Linked DNA regions of Homo sapiens: region 2 is linked to region 1. A link means that fine-mapping ties the variant in region 1 to the expression of a gene that starts in the linked region. Tissue or cell type: whole blood. Region 1 holds a variant in brackets; the other region holds the start of a gene. All regions are shown on one strand. Distances are between the middles of the regions.

Region 1 (8,252 bases):
TGTATGTTCTAAACTCCAAAGTACCTTGTTTATATTTTTGCTTTAAGCAGTTTCTCAAAGAGATTAAAAATGAGAAAAGATAACTTTCATATGTTTCCATATAATTTACCATTTGGAAGCCTCTTCACTCCTTTGTGCAGCCCAAATTTCTATCTAGTATCATTTTTCTTCTGCCTAAAAAACTTGCCTCAACATTTTTTGTACTACAGGTCTGCTGGTTACGAATTCTCTCAACTTCAGTTTGTCCATCAAAAAGTGTTTATTTCACCTTCATTTTTGAAGGATATTTGTGTTGGGTATAGAATTCTAGATTGACCTACTTTCTTTTTCAGTTCTACTGTCTTCTGCCTTGAATAATTTCTGACCACACATCTGCTGTCATTCTTATCTTTGTTCCTCTCTATGTCGTGTGTCTTTTTTTTCCTTTTTGTTTTCTTTCTGGTTACTTTTATGAGTGTATCTTTATTAAGCAATCTGATTACAATGTGCCTTGATGTAATTATCTTCATTTTTCTTTTTCTTTTTTTTGAGATGGAGTCTTGCTCTGTCGCCAGGCTGGAGTGCAGTGGTGCAATCTCGGCTCACTGCAACCTCCTCCTCATGGGTTCAAGCGATTCTCCTGCTTCAGCCTCCTGAGTAACTGGGACTACGGGCACACACCACCACGCCCAGCTAATTTTTGTATTTTTAGGAGAGACGGGGTTTGACCATGTTTGTCGATGGTCTCGATCTCTTGACATTGTGATCCGCCCACCTCAGCCTCCCAAAGTGCTGAGATTACAGGCATGAGCCACCACGCCTGACCAATTCTCTTCATTCTTATTCCTTATATTTGTTTGTATTCTGTTGAGCTTCTTGAGTCATGGGTTGAGTTTTCATCAAATTTGGACGTTTTCCCACCATTATTTCTTCAAATATTTTTTTCTGTCTTTCTCTCTGTTCTTTTGAGACTTCAATTAAACATATTAGGGTCTGTTATATTGTCCCACATGCCAGTGATGCTCTGAGTATTACCTTTTGTCAATGTTTTTTCTTTCTTTCTTCTTCTTTTTTTTTTTCTTTTGAGACAGGGTCTCACTCTGTCACCCAAGCTAGAGTGCAGTGATGGAATCTTGGCTCAACACAACCTATGCCGTTGAGCTCATGTGATCCTCCCGTCTCAGCCTCCTGAGTAGCTGGGACCACAGGCACATGCCACCACTCCTGGCTAATTTTTGTATTTTTTGTAGAGACAGGGTTTCACCATATTGCCCAGGGTGGAATATTTTATCTTTATGTGCTTAATTTTAGATAGTTTTATTGCTCTAGCTTCAATTCACTGATCATTTCTTCTGCACTGTCTAATCTACTATTAATCCTATCTACCTAGCTTTTCATTTTTGATTTTGTAGTTGATATTTTGATTTTTCATCCCTAGAGGTGCTACTGGATCTTCTTATACTTTCCATTTCTCTTCCCATCATCCTGATGTGTTCATTTACATGCTTGATCAAATGAAACATATTTATAAAAGTTATATTCGGGCTGTGCACAGTGGCTCAAGCCTGTAATCCCAGCACTTTGGGAGGCCGAGATGGGCAGATCATGAAGTCGGGAGTTTGAGACCAGCCTGGTCAACATGGCGAAACCCCATCTCTACTAAAAAATACAAAAATTAGCCAGGCATGGTGGCATGCACCTGTAATCCCAGCTACTCCGGAGGCTGAGGCAGGAGAATCGCTTGAACCTGGGAGGCAAAGGTTGCAGTGAGCCGAGATCGTGCCACTGCACTCCAGCCTGGGTAACAAAGTGAGATTCTGTTACAAAAAAAAAAAAGTTATTTTCATGTCCTTTCCCTGATAATTCCATCACATCTTTGTCATTGCTAGGTCTATTTCTATTGACCACTTTTTTTTTGTTAGTGGGTCAGTCACATTTCCTTCTTTGTCTAGTAATTTTTTGCTGGATGTCTCACACTGCAAACGTTACCATTTTTCAATGCATAATTTTGTCATATTCTTTTAAAGAGGACTCCAGTGAACCCTGGTCCTGTGTTGGCTCTATCCTGTTTGTCTTACAGCTCCCTCTGCAGTTGTTCTCTTCTGGTCTCACAGGGTTGCCCTGTGCATGAGCAGATTGATATTCACCGAGATTCCAGGAGGCCTCTATCGAGATTTCTGGAGATCTTTCTCTTTCCAGCTTCTTCCTTTTAGGATTCTGTCCCACAGATTCTAGAAACCTTAGAACTTGGTGTCTCCAAATTCTGATCTCTGTTCCCTCAACTTAGTAATCTCGCCAGTCTCCGTTTGGGTTCTCCCTCCCTGTGGTAGAATTCTCTTCAGGTAGAAAGGCTAGGTAATGAACGATAGGGCTCACTCGGTTAGTCTTCTTTTTCCAAGGAATCACAGTCCACCATTGCCTGGTCCCTATATTTTATCCAGCTCCTAGTTGTTTACAGTGGGAGAATAATTCCAGGCTGTCCTGCTCACTCTCGACTGGAAGCAGAAGTCTCATCATCTTTTCGCAAGATGACATCATGGTAGATCAGAGGAAGAAAGAGACCAGCCACCCACCCTCTTTCAACCATATCCCTCTTGCCTACCATACCTGTACCCCATCTTTCCCTAACTGCCATTCCTGGTCTCTAATTCAGCCACACCCTCCTCCTCCTTCCCCTTCTCCTTTTTCTCCTCCTCCCCCTTCTCCTCCTCCTCCTCCTCCCTCTTCTCTCTCTCTTTGTCTCTCTCCCTCTCTCTTTCTGGGACTTCTTATAGAATGTACCCCCACCTCCATTGCTACCACTAACTTCAAGGCCTGGTTCAAAGCCCCCTGCCCTTGGCATAAAGAGCCAAGACTCTGAAACTGGACAGAGCAGAAGCTGAACACCAGCCTCACCTGCCAAGGGCCTGTGTGTCCCTGAGAAAGCACCTCAGTCTCTCTCTGAAATCTCCCCAGGGTTGGGGAGAGGATCAGAGCACCTGACACAGTGCCCGGCGCGAAACAGGTGCTTGGTCAGTGTTCCTCCCAACTCTACCATCACGATGTCACATGTGGCTGGCTGTTCTCTTCCTCCACCTTCTCATGGGTGATTTGAAATAGTCTCTCATCAGTTTATGGGGAGTGTGTTGAAATCTTCACACTCACACGGGAAGTTCAGCAAGGACAACAACCCAGACTTTTCCATTTTGCACCTTCTAATATGCTGAGCACCAGCAGGCCCTCCGTCTATGCTGGCTGAACGAATCCCTCTCTCTCCTATACCCGCTTCGGTGGCTCAGGTCAGGTCCTTGTATCCCGCCACGTTCAGGCAGGTTCTCACATACTCTGCTGCTCACAGCCATCACCGTTCGCTGCCAGAATCATCTTCCTGAAAGGTAGCAGGGCTCAGGTCAACTGCCTGCTCCAAAGCTTTCAATGGCTGTCCACTGTCTACAAAATGGAGTCAGAACTGTCTCATATGGCTTTTACTCCTCCCCATTTCAGATCCCAAATAACCTTCCAGGCTTCTTTGTTACTACTGCACCCAACTCTCCAGTCAGAGGTTCTCCACTACCCCGTCTATGTTCACCCCCAGACCTTTGTTCACAAGCCACTGCCACTGCCCCTCCCCTACTGACCTCAGGATCGAAATCCAACGTGCCCTTCACGGCCCAGCTCAGTACTCCTCCTCCTGAGGGGCTTTTCTCTCCACTCTCCCAGTTCGTGCGCCACAGAGGCCCCCGGGGAGGCTCGAGGACCGCCTTTCCATCACCGTGGGGTGAGCCCCACCCTCGCACCGAGAAGAAAGGAAGGGAGTGGACCTACTGTCTGCGGGATGGGAGTCGGGACACTGACTGTGTGGGAATGCACCTATGCAGGGCTGTCCTCGGGGAGAGGGGCTTCGTGTACTTCACACAGTGCTTCATGAAGGGGTGAGTCAGGCGCCATCTCTCCTTTTTCCAAAAGGAAAAATGAGCCACACCACAGATTAAGTCAATTACACTCAGCCAGAGGAAATATCCTCCGAAGATCTTCACTCTCAAATCAGCCTCTCAATGGAGCCCTGCAGCACTGGAAAGGAGCCCTCCCATTTCCGCCTCTGACTTCCTTTCCACAAAGCAAAGGAGCAGAAGCCACAGGTCCCAGGAAACCGCACAGCTCCCGGCTCCAGGTCTCTGGGGAGACAACCCTTGCCTGGGGAAGCCTGGGAGGTTCGGGGAAGCAAACAGAATTCCTAAGACTGGGAGAACAAAAGCAAAATTTACCACGCAACCAACAGCAGCTCAGCAGTGGGAGGTCTGCAGCCTGGGGATAGCTCCAGTTCACACTGGAAACCCTTTCACCGCCAGAGAACTCCAGCGCGGACGCCAAGCACGACCACGGCAGGTGACCTGCCCTCCCTCCAGCTCCACCACCATTCTCCCTGTTCTCACCACACAACCACGCACTCAATAGCCTCCAAACACTCCACTGTCCCCTCATGCCCCTTGTCACCCTGAATCCCGGTGTCACTGGCTTCCAATGTCCCCCTACCCCTCCCACCTTTTCCCAG[C/T]TCACCTGTCTCTACCTCTGCTCCCTAGGCAGAGCCACTAGGCAGTTGCCAACTGCCTAGGCAACTCCCTAGGCAGCTGACCCACAGAGGCCCAGGGAGGTCAGCTGCGCTGCCCAGGGCCCCAGGCATCCAACTCTGGGCCACGCTTCCCTCCTCCTGGCACACCGCCTCCTTCTCCCCAAACCACCATCCGCTCTTCTGCCCTGTGAGGTGATGACTGTATTGATTTTGATGCCTTCTTCAATCCCAATAAATAAACCATTCTCTTGCGACCAAAGCCCATGTCTGTCTAAGAGCGGGACCTCACTCTCGGCTGGAATGCTGCTGTCACCCCAGCCACCTCTGCCACCAGCCTGCCAGGCAAAACTGTCCCTGGATTTCCTGCCCAGTAGGCCCTTGAAAGATGCCTTCTTGCTGCTGCAGATGGAAGCAAGCAGAAGCAGCTTGCTAGACCAGCCCTGACTCTTCCTCAGCTCGAGAGGTGGCTGTGGCTCAAGGAGGCCACCAGTGTGGACCTCGAGTGGCACCACCCAGCTGATGGAGGCAGGGCTGCAGACGGCAGAGGCATCTCATCCCCTTGAGAGGAAACTACAGTTACCATAGAGGGGTGTGTAGAGCTTTGCTTCCCCGATTTGCATAAGCTTATATAAAGAATGTATCTGTCCTAAATGTGCATAGAGTCACATAAATATGCAATTCACAGAAAGATCTCTGGAAGTATCCACACCAAACATTTGGCAATGGGTACCTATGAGAAGGGGAGCAAGGGAAGGAAGGAGGACTTTCACTTTTATTCTTTGTACTCCTGTCTAGGTTGAATTATTTTCTTACAATAGTGCTTCATAATATAGAAGAAAACTGATATTCGTTTAAGAGAAGCCTCAATGTTAATAGCAGTTATCCTTCAGAAATAATATTATGGGTAATATTTTTTCATACTACATAGTATTTTCCAGGCTTTCCACAGTGAATACATTTGTTACTTTTATGTTAGATTGAATCATATGAAATGAAGTTGCCTTTTTTTTTTTCTTTTTGAGACAGAGTCTTGCTCTGTCACCCAGGCTGGAGTGCAGTGGCGAAATCTCGACTCACTGCAACCTCCGCCTCCCAGGTTCAAGCAATTCTCCTGTCTCAGCCTCCTGAGTAGCTGGGATTACAGGTGTGCGCCACCACCCAGGAGGCGAAGGTTGCAGTGAGCTGAGATCATGCCACTGCACTCCAGCCTGGGCAAAAGAGCCAGACTCTGTCTCAAAAAAAAAAAAAATAAATAAAAAATTTTTTAAAAACGTAAATGTTTATGTAGACAATAGCTCTATCATTAAGGCCTGACATATAAACTTTCCAGAAATGGGGGGGCCATACCCCCAATCTTAAATGTATAGCTACAGAATTTCTACCTGCAGTGTTTGTGTCCCGCAGCTAGGCAGGATGGACAAGGTTCTGTGAGCAGCCTGGGCAAACAGGAGAAGGCAGTCCTGAGCAATGCGCTTTAGTCTACACCTAGAGAAAGTGCCCAGGACCATGTAAGGTCTGGAAACCATGTCGCCTGAGGACTTCTTGAAAAAGGGAGATGGGCGAGGCTGAAGAGGAGATCCAGGGAGAGCAACATAGCTGAATTCAAACACTGGAAGGGCTGCTGTGTAGAAAACAAGAAGTAGACATGCATTACTTCCTGTGGACAAATTAGAACCAGGAAAGGGTGGCTCATGCCTGTAATCCCAGCAGTTTGGGAGGCCGAGACGGGTGGATCACCTGAGGTCAGGAGTTCAAGACCAGCCTGGCCAACATGGTGAAACCCCATCTCTACTAAAAATACAAAAATCAGCTGGGCGTGGTAGTGGGCACCTGTAATCCCAGCTACTTGAGAGGCTGAGGCAGGAGAATCGCTTGAACTCAGGAGGCAGAGGTTGCAGTGAGCCGAGATCATGCCATTGCACTCCAGCCTGGGCGACAACAGTGAGACTCCGTCTCAAAAAAAAGGAAAATGAAAGAACCAGGAATGGAAGCAGCGAGGAGGGAGCAGGTCAGAGCCGAGCAGGAAGGGGCAGGGGCACAGGATAGCGCTGGAGTCCCCAGAGCCGAGACACTGGATCCACCAAGATAGTCCAGTCCCTCCAGAAATCAACTGACGTTACACGTGCCGCAGGCAAGCTCCTCTCTAGGAAGGCCATGCATTTATTTCTGCTCCAACTTTCGGAGTATTTTCCAAGAATCACTTATGTTTAGTCCCAAACCTGTTTATGCCAGTTGTTTTTGGTATTATATTTACATAACTTAATTAAATATAACCTACACAGATAAAATATGGATGTGAAAGAAAGCGCGTTGTTTCTAAAAAAAGTAAAGTGAGTATTTTGAACATTTTTGACAAATATAAGTAGCTAGAAGAAATTGCTGTTGAATTCAAGGTAGGCAAGACAGTAACAATTTGGCCAAAAAGAAAGAACAGTAATAAAAATGTAGGGGGATTCTGTACCCAGGTTCCTTCCAAGTGACTTTTAATTCTTACTCCACTTTAAGGAAACTGGAAATGACACACAACACATCCCAGCTGCAAAAGAAGGCCATAGGAGGGGGTGGTGGCTAACACCGGTGGTCCTAGCTACTCAGGAGGTCAAGGTGGGAGGATCACTTGAACCCAGGAGCTCAAGCCCAACCTGGGCAACATAGCAAGACCTCATCTTTAAAAAAAAAAAAAAGAAGAAGGAAAAAGAAAAAGGCCACAAGGAATACCAAACAGAGTACCTATATAAAAAGGAAAGAACTTTCCCTTCAACAAAAGATTGGCAAATGACTGTATAGCTAAATGTTTTCAATTAAAACAAACTATTTAAAATACATATAAATGTATATATGTATGCACAATTTTTGTGATTCCTGTATTTTACTGACTTTTTATAAAACCTACTGAATTTTAGTAGATGGCACACATTTTAACTCTGTGTGTGTGTGTGTGTGTGTGTGTGTGTGTGTGTGTGTGTATTTGGTTTTTTTTTTTTTTTTTGAGACAGGGTCTCACTCTGTTACCCAGGTTGGAGTGCAGTGTTGTGATCATGGCTCACTGCAGCCTCAACCTCCTGGGCTCAAGCGATCCTCCTGCCTCAGTCTCCCTAGTGTCTGGGACCACAAGTGTGTGCCACCACGCCTGGCTAATTTTTTAATTCTGTGTAAAGATGAGGTCTCACTATTTTGCCCAGTCTAGTCTCGAATTCCTGGGCTCAAGCGATCCTCCCACTTTGGCCTCCCAAAGTGTTGAGATTATAGACGTGAGCCACCTTGCCCAGCCTTAGGTGTATATTTTGATGAATATGGACAAATATGTACAGCTGTGTGACTACTTCTCCAAGCAAGATACGAAAGACTGCCATCATCCCAACATGTGCCATGGTGCCCCATCCAAGTCAACTTCTCTCCCAGCCCCGTGGAGTGTCTGTTAAGGTACCATAGCTCTTACCACACCATAGTTGGCCCTTGAACAACAGGGTTTGAACCGCACAGGTCCACTTGCAGATTTTCTTTCACCTCGGCAACCCCTGAGACAGCAAAACCAACCCCTTCTCTTTCTCCTCCTCCTCAGCTACTCAACGTGAAGATGCAGATGAAGACCTTTTGATGATCCACCTCCACTTAATGAATAGTCAATATATTTTCCTGGCCAGGCGCAGTGGCTCGTGCCTGTAATCCCAGCACTTTGGGAGGCCGCGGTGGGTGGATCACCTGAGGGCAGGAGTTCGAGACC
Region 2 (5,750 bases), 270 kb after region 1:
GGGCAGAAGCTGAGGTCAAGACACCAGGGGACAGTAAGGAGGGGGCATCCATGGTGCCCCTAGCCCCCTGTACCCACCCCTCTCTCCAGCACTACCCTCGCACTGCCAAATTTCCCTTAACCAGGTGGGCCCCCTGAAGCCACCTCGAGGCCGGAGATCAGCTCACCGCCAACCCTACAATCATTTTGGATTTCAGAAGATCTTCTCAGCCAGCTGCTAGAAAGAAATGTAATTAGATGAGAAAAGTAATTCACATTAAAGCGTGGATGACTAAGTGTCTTGTCACTCCTAATGAACGCTGGCATTTTAAAATAAGTTTGCCTAAAATAAATCTCTCATTTGGGGAGGCGTGGGCCAAATCTTTTTTATATAGGGGAGGCTTTGGAAGTGAAAGTCCTCTGAAGCGCTGATTTCTACTTCAGGAGGCCACTTCCTTCTCTCTACCCCACCCTCGCCCTATTCCCCAGGCGCTGGGCCTGCACGGTGCTAGCTTCTGAAGGGTTGCCGGGCAAGGCTGAGCATTTTCAGAGCAGCCATTAGATGGCACTGGCAGCCAGTGACTGGCCCAGGTGCGCTTCGGCTAAAGGGGCAACTGAACGAGCTTTGGTCAACCTTGGTGTCCTCTCCTGGCTCCAAGGGACAGGCTGTTCCCATTGTACCCTGCCAGTGATCTATTCAAGTACACAGCCAGAACTTGGTGGACCAGGCAATTAGATTAAAGCTCCAAGTTGACCATAGCACATTTAGCTCTGAAAAATGCCCAGATGTTACAGTCACAGAAAAATGGTAGTTACGTATGTCACCAAATGCAAATGTAAAGTAACATATTAGTAAAGGAAAAAACAAAATCTTACAGGTCTGATAGTTCCCTCAATTATATTTCAATTCTTGTCAAAGATAACTACTCTGGAGTGATTTCCATTTGCTAGAAGCAATGACTTCAGGCCTTCCTGGAAAGCCCCAGAGAGCATTTCCCCTCCTTATGCCCTATGTGCTGTGTTGTACAATGTGGTAACATATTCACTCCCACCCTCTCAGAGCTTATATTCTGTTGCTAAACTGGTTAGATGGCTGCTATTGCTAAAACTTCAGATTCTTCCCTGAAAGATGGTCTTGTGTTTGTATTGTATATTTTGCTTATGTGTATGTGTATTTGCTTATGTGTATTTTCAGTTCTCTACAATGAACAAATAGTACCTTTTGTGTCATTTTTAAAGCAACAAATTATTGGGGAAATATCAAATGTTGTGCTTTTTTAAGTAGGGAAAGTATTATAATCCAAAAATGGAAAGCTCTGGAAAAATAGAAACTTGAAATTTGCTCATCCTGAGATTAACTTTATAGTAGAACTACACTTATTAGAACTTCATAGGTGTGAGGGGCTCTCTATGAGCTCAACAAATCATTTTGCTTGTTACTGTAAAACTGCACGCTGGCCATGACCTTTTGTAAAGATTAGAGGAGCACAGGGGCCGAGTTTTGTCCTTACACCATGACATACATGCATCGAGTCCTATAACAAAAGCATCAAAGGAACAGTAAGTCATTAAAGTGGCCATAATCTGTGCAGAGTTTATAAACTGACACACACACAAAAAAAATCCACACACACTTTTATTTTCCTTGGCTCCTTCCAGCCATTCTGTAAGAACCCTCCCTGCCCCATTTAAACATGAAGAATTTGGGGAATCCAAATGCCAAGTGGACTGTCTCTCCTTCGCTGGAAACGCCCCTTACCTGAGCCTTGATCATTCCAAATGGCTGCCCGTGCCCTCAACCCAGGATCTGCGCCATAAACCGTCCACCCCGGTTCTGTTGAGGGCATCCGAAACTAGACAGTGCGTTTCAGGATCTAGGACAGCTCCCGCCCCGGCCACCTGTTTTTAACCCCAGCTAGGTCTTGGAGAGAAGAGACCCAACTATTCTGCATTGTAATTGACCCAGTTATCATGTAATTATCATAGCGCGGCCACCTCGGGTGCGCTAAGGTGGGCAAGGAAACAAGGATTCAGGGGTCTGAATCCGAAAAAATCCGGAAGGCAGGGCGTTCATTATGACTTTTATCCTTTTCTCTGCTGCCCCGTTTCCAACATTAATTTGCGATAGCGTGTATGGAATTTGACTTTCAAGATGTGACACCTATCCTGGAAACTGGGAGCAAGAGATACTAAAAGACCGGGCTGGCCGGGGGCGGTGGCTCGCGCCTGTAATGCCAGAACTTTGGGGGGCCAAGGCGGGCGGATCACCTGTTGTCGGGAGTTTGAGACCAGCCTGACCAACATGGAGAAACTCCGTCTCTACTAAAAATACAAAAATTAGCCGGGCGTGGTGGCGCATGCCTGTAATCCCAGCTACTCGGGAGGCTGAAGCAGGAGAATCGCTTGAACCCGGGAGGCGAAGGTTGCGGTGAGCAGAGATCACCCCTTTGCTCTCCAGCATGGGCAACAAGAGCGAAACTCCGTCTCAAAAAAAAAAAAAAAGACCGGGTTGTCCCAAGACCTCCTAGCAAGCTCTCGGAGCCTCCGGACCGCCGCGAGCCCCTGGGGGAGAGGAGGCCGCCGGCTCCCTGGAGACAGCGCCTGCAGCTTCGCGGCCGTCCGCCCAGGGGCCGGACGTGGGCCCTCCAGCTCAGCTACTGGCGGCTTCTCATGCCGCAGTCGGCGCAGAAAGTTTGTCGAGAACTCGGGACCGCGGAGAGCCAGAGGCGCCCAGGTCCGCCTTCGGAGCCGGAGCCGGCCGACTGCATCGCGAGGACGGGGACAGGGGATCCCGGGGAAAGAGCACGGGTCCCCCACGCTGCGCCCTTACCTGTCTCGGGAGGCTGCTCTCTGAGGGCGGGGACGCTCGGCGGCCTCTCTCGGTCGCGGCTCTTCTTCCCCTCCTTCGCCGCCGCTTGGTCCCGCGCTCCTCTGTCCTTATATACTTGCCGAGCTCTCCTGGTGGGCGCGGGACTTTGACCTTCCCGGCAGCACAAGGAGCAGCTCCCCGGGCCAGGGGAAGGGGGGCCGCGGGGCGTGGGAGGGGGGCTTCCAGACGGGGGACGAGCGCGGGGAGACGCGCTGGAAAGGGGCTGGAATTAGCACTGTCCTGCCGAAGGCGCACCTGGCCGCTCGCCCTCAGGAAGAACTTAATTATGGATGGCGTTGGGTCTCCGCTTAGAACGGGCGGGAGGCTTAGCACCCCCGTGTGGGGCAGGCCGGGCAGCCTCTGAGGTCGTTGAGGCGAGGGTGAAGTTACCTGCGTGCGTGCTGGGGCTGGCATCTGCCTGGTTCGCATTTGGCGGTAAATATCACCGTCTGCACACGGGGAGGCCTCCGATTTCCCCATTGTTTGGAAACTGTGATGTGGAAGTCGTGGGGAATCATATTCTCTCTGTTCCACTTTGGGGAGGGGAGGAGGGAGCAGAAGTCAGGAGCCGTCTTGTGGGTGTGAAGGTGAGTTGCACTGCTCCCCTGGGGCCTGCTCTCCAAGGGCCTGGTTTAGGGGAGGCTCCCTTCCGTGTCCCAAGCCTCAAGGAAAAAGTCCTGTTAACCTAAACCATTAAATGGGGAGAGGGTGATGCTGTGAAGAGCAGCTGAAGTGCTTTCCCTGTGGCCTCTGATCCCTCCCTTTGCCATGAGCTGGCAGGGTGGTCTGGGGACTCAGACAATTTTCAACATCCCCCTTGGCCCTGGAGTTCTGGCTTGGCTTTAGTTCCAAATATCAGACCAGAGAGAAGAGTACAGCACTCAAACCAAGCTAAGAGACTCTACCTTAACCTGGAGTAAATAAACAAAACCAAATTGTGCGATGTGGTGGGTGTGGGAGGGAGTATTGGGACTAAACTGGACTTCAAATCAAGACACTTGCTTAATCTGCCAAATGCCAGAACTTTCCTGATTCCCCATGAGATGCTCTTTTGGACTCCAGGACTCTCTTGTGGATTCAGCTTTTCTGGTGACATTGGCTTTACATTCAGCAATCCTTTCCCTTTGGACCACAAGAGAGATCCAAGCTCCGTCACAGTAGACAAGGTGCTTCATCACCCGGCTTTGGCCCCTTTCCAGGGCCATTTCCCAGTTCTCCACCTTGCATCCTGGCACTTCAGCATCCACAACATTCACACTGCTAGAACATGGCTTTCTTGGGTCTCCATTGTCCAAGCTGTTCCCCCAACTAGAACATCCTTCCTCTCTCCAGCCATCCAGGAGCTTGACTCACATCAAGATGTAGCCCATCCATCAGCCCCTGTTCTCTGAAGCCCTCTTTGGCCACTTTTCCTACCAGGGGCATGAGGCATGACCTCCTCTGCCTTCCACAGAAGTCCATCCCCATCTTGTCAGTGCAAGTGGCTTGCACTAATTCACTTCTGTCCCCATTTTTTTAATCTTCCATCCACCCCACGACCACCATCAGGTTTGTAAACTCTTTCAAGCAGATGGTGGTTTTGCCTTATTTTACTTTGTGTTATTTTTGTAACTTCAGGAGGCTGCTGGTGGCAGCAGATAAAACAAACCAGGAAAAATCCAAATGGACCCAACTTCTTTAACTGGGTTCCTTCTTTCTTTTCTTCTCTCTCTCTCTCATTCTGTTTGTTTGTTTTTGAATTAGGGTCTCACTCTGTTGCCCAGGCTGGAATGCAGCAGTGTGAACACTGCTCACTGCAGCCTCCACCTCCTGGGCTCAAGTGATCCTCATGCTTCAGCCTCCTGAGTACCTGGAACCACAGATGCATGCCACCATGCCCAGCTAATTTTGGGTTTTGGTTTTTTGTTTTGTTTTTGTTTTTGTTTTTGGTAGAGACAGGGTTTCACTATGTTGCCTAGGCTGGTCTCAAGCTCCTGGGCTCAAGTAATCCACATCAGTATCCTGAAGTGCTGGGATTACAGGTGTTAGCCACCACACCCAGCCCAGTTTCTTAATTTAATGCAGCAGAACCTGCTTTGGCCTCCATGAACTGAAAGGCCATTGAACTGCATTTAGAATCACTGGGTAGGCGGGGCACAGTGGCTCACGCCTGTAATCCCAGCACTCTGGGAGGCTGAGTTGGGCAGATCACGAGGTCAAGAGATGGAGACATTCCTGGCCAAGATGGCGAAACCCCGTCTCTACTAAAAATACAAAAATTAGCCGGGCGTGGTGGCGCACACCTGTAGTCCCAGCTACTCGGGTGGCTGAGGCAGGAGAATCGCTTGAACCTGGGAGGCGGAGGTTGCGGTGAGCCGAGATCGCGCCACTGCACTCCAGCCTGGCGACACAGCAAGACTCCATCTAAAAAAAAAAAAAAATCACTGGGCAGGTTGGGGGACCAGGATCTAAAAATGGGCAGGGACACAGTGTGGCTGGAACCATGGCCAAAATCACATCCAGTGGAGAAAAAAAAAACAGACCACAAGGGGCCACAAGGGGCATGTCAAGACCACAGGCGTCTGACATAGACGTCACTTCTGTCCCCAGGATGGGACGCTGCCATTCTCACTTCAGCTAATGCCACTAGAAAGGAGTCACCACTGCCCTTGCATCCTTGTACCACTAGCTCCTCTTTGAAAGCCTAGAACAGGTGCCTTTGATTGTCTGACATGACATAATTTTTCACCTTTATTCTAGTAATGTGGTGAATTATTGCATTGTTGATTTTTTGGTGTTAAACCTACCATGGCTTCTTAGATTAAACCCAATTTGATTATGATGTATTATCCTTATACAGAAAGCACTGGACTCAATTTGCTAATATTTTATTTAAGACATTTGCATTGATGTTCATGAGATGG

Which allele goes with the higher level. Positions count from the first base shown, and alleles are read on the strand shown. Sizes are in standard deviations (SD) of each study's normalised expression.
As copies of T replace C in region 1, the expression in whole blood of the gene that starts at base 2,891 in region 2 goes up (large effect, 1.3 SD a copy in Lepik 2017).

What was found. PIP is the estimated chance that this variant, and not a neighbour inherited with it, causes the effect.
Region 2: it holds the start of POMC, and the variant in region 1 is fine-mapped to the expression of POMC in whole blood (TOPMed, PIP above 0.99). The same link has a PIP of 0.9 or more in lung.

What each region holds. Positions count from the first base shown.
Region 1 is chr2:24,894,582-24,902,833 of GRCh38, forward strand. All of the region lies in intron 2 of ADCY3 (adenylate cyclase 3), which reads right to left. Among named protein-coding and RNA genes, the nearest start is that of ADCY3, 22 kb to the right of the region's middle. RefSeq lists an enhancer at 4,155-5,074. The variant C/T (reference allele first, on the strand shown) is at 4,511.
Region 2 is chr2:25,165,690-25,171,439 of GRCh38, forward strand. POMC (proopiomelanocortin) reads right to left here and starts at 2,891. Exons shown (of 3, transcript NM_000939.4): 1 at 2,809-2,891. RefSeq lists a promoter at 2,765-3,577, cis regulatory regions at 2,916-2,928, 2,994-3,167, 3,168-3,193 and an enhancer at 2,988-3,007.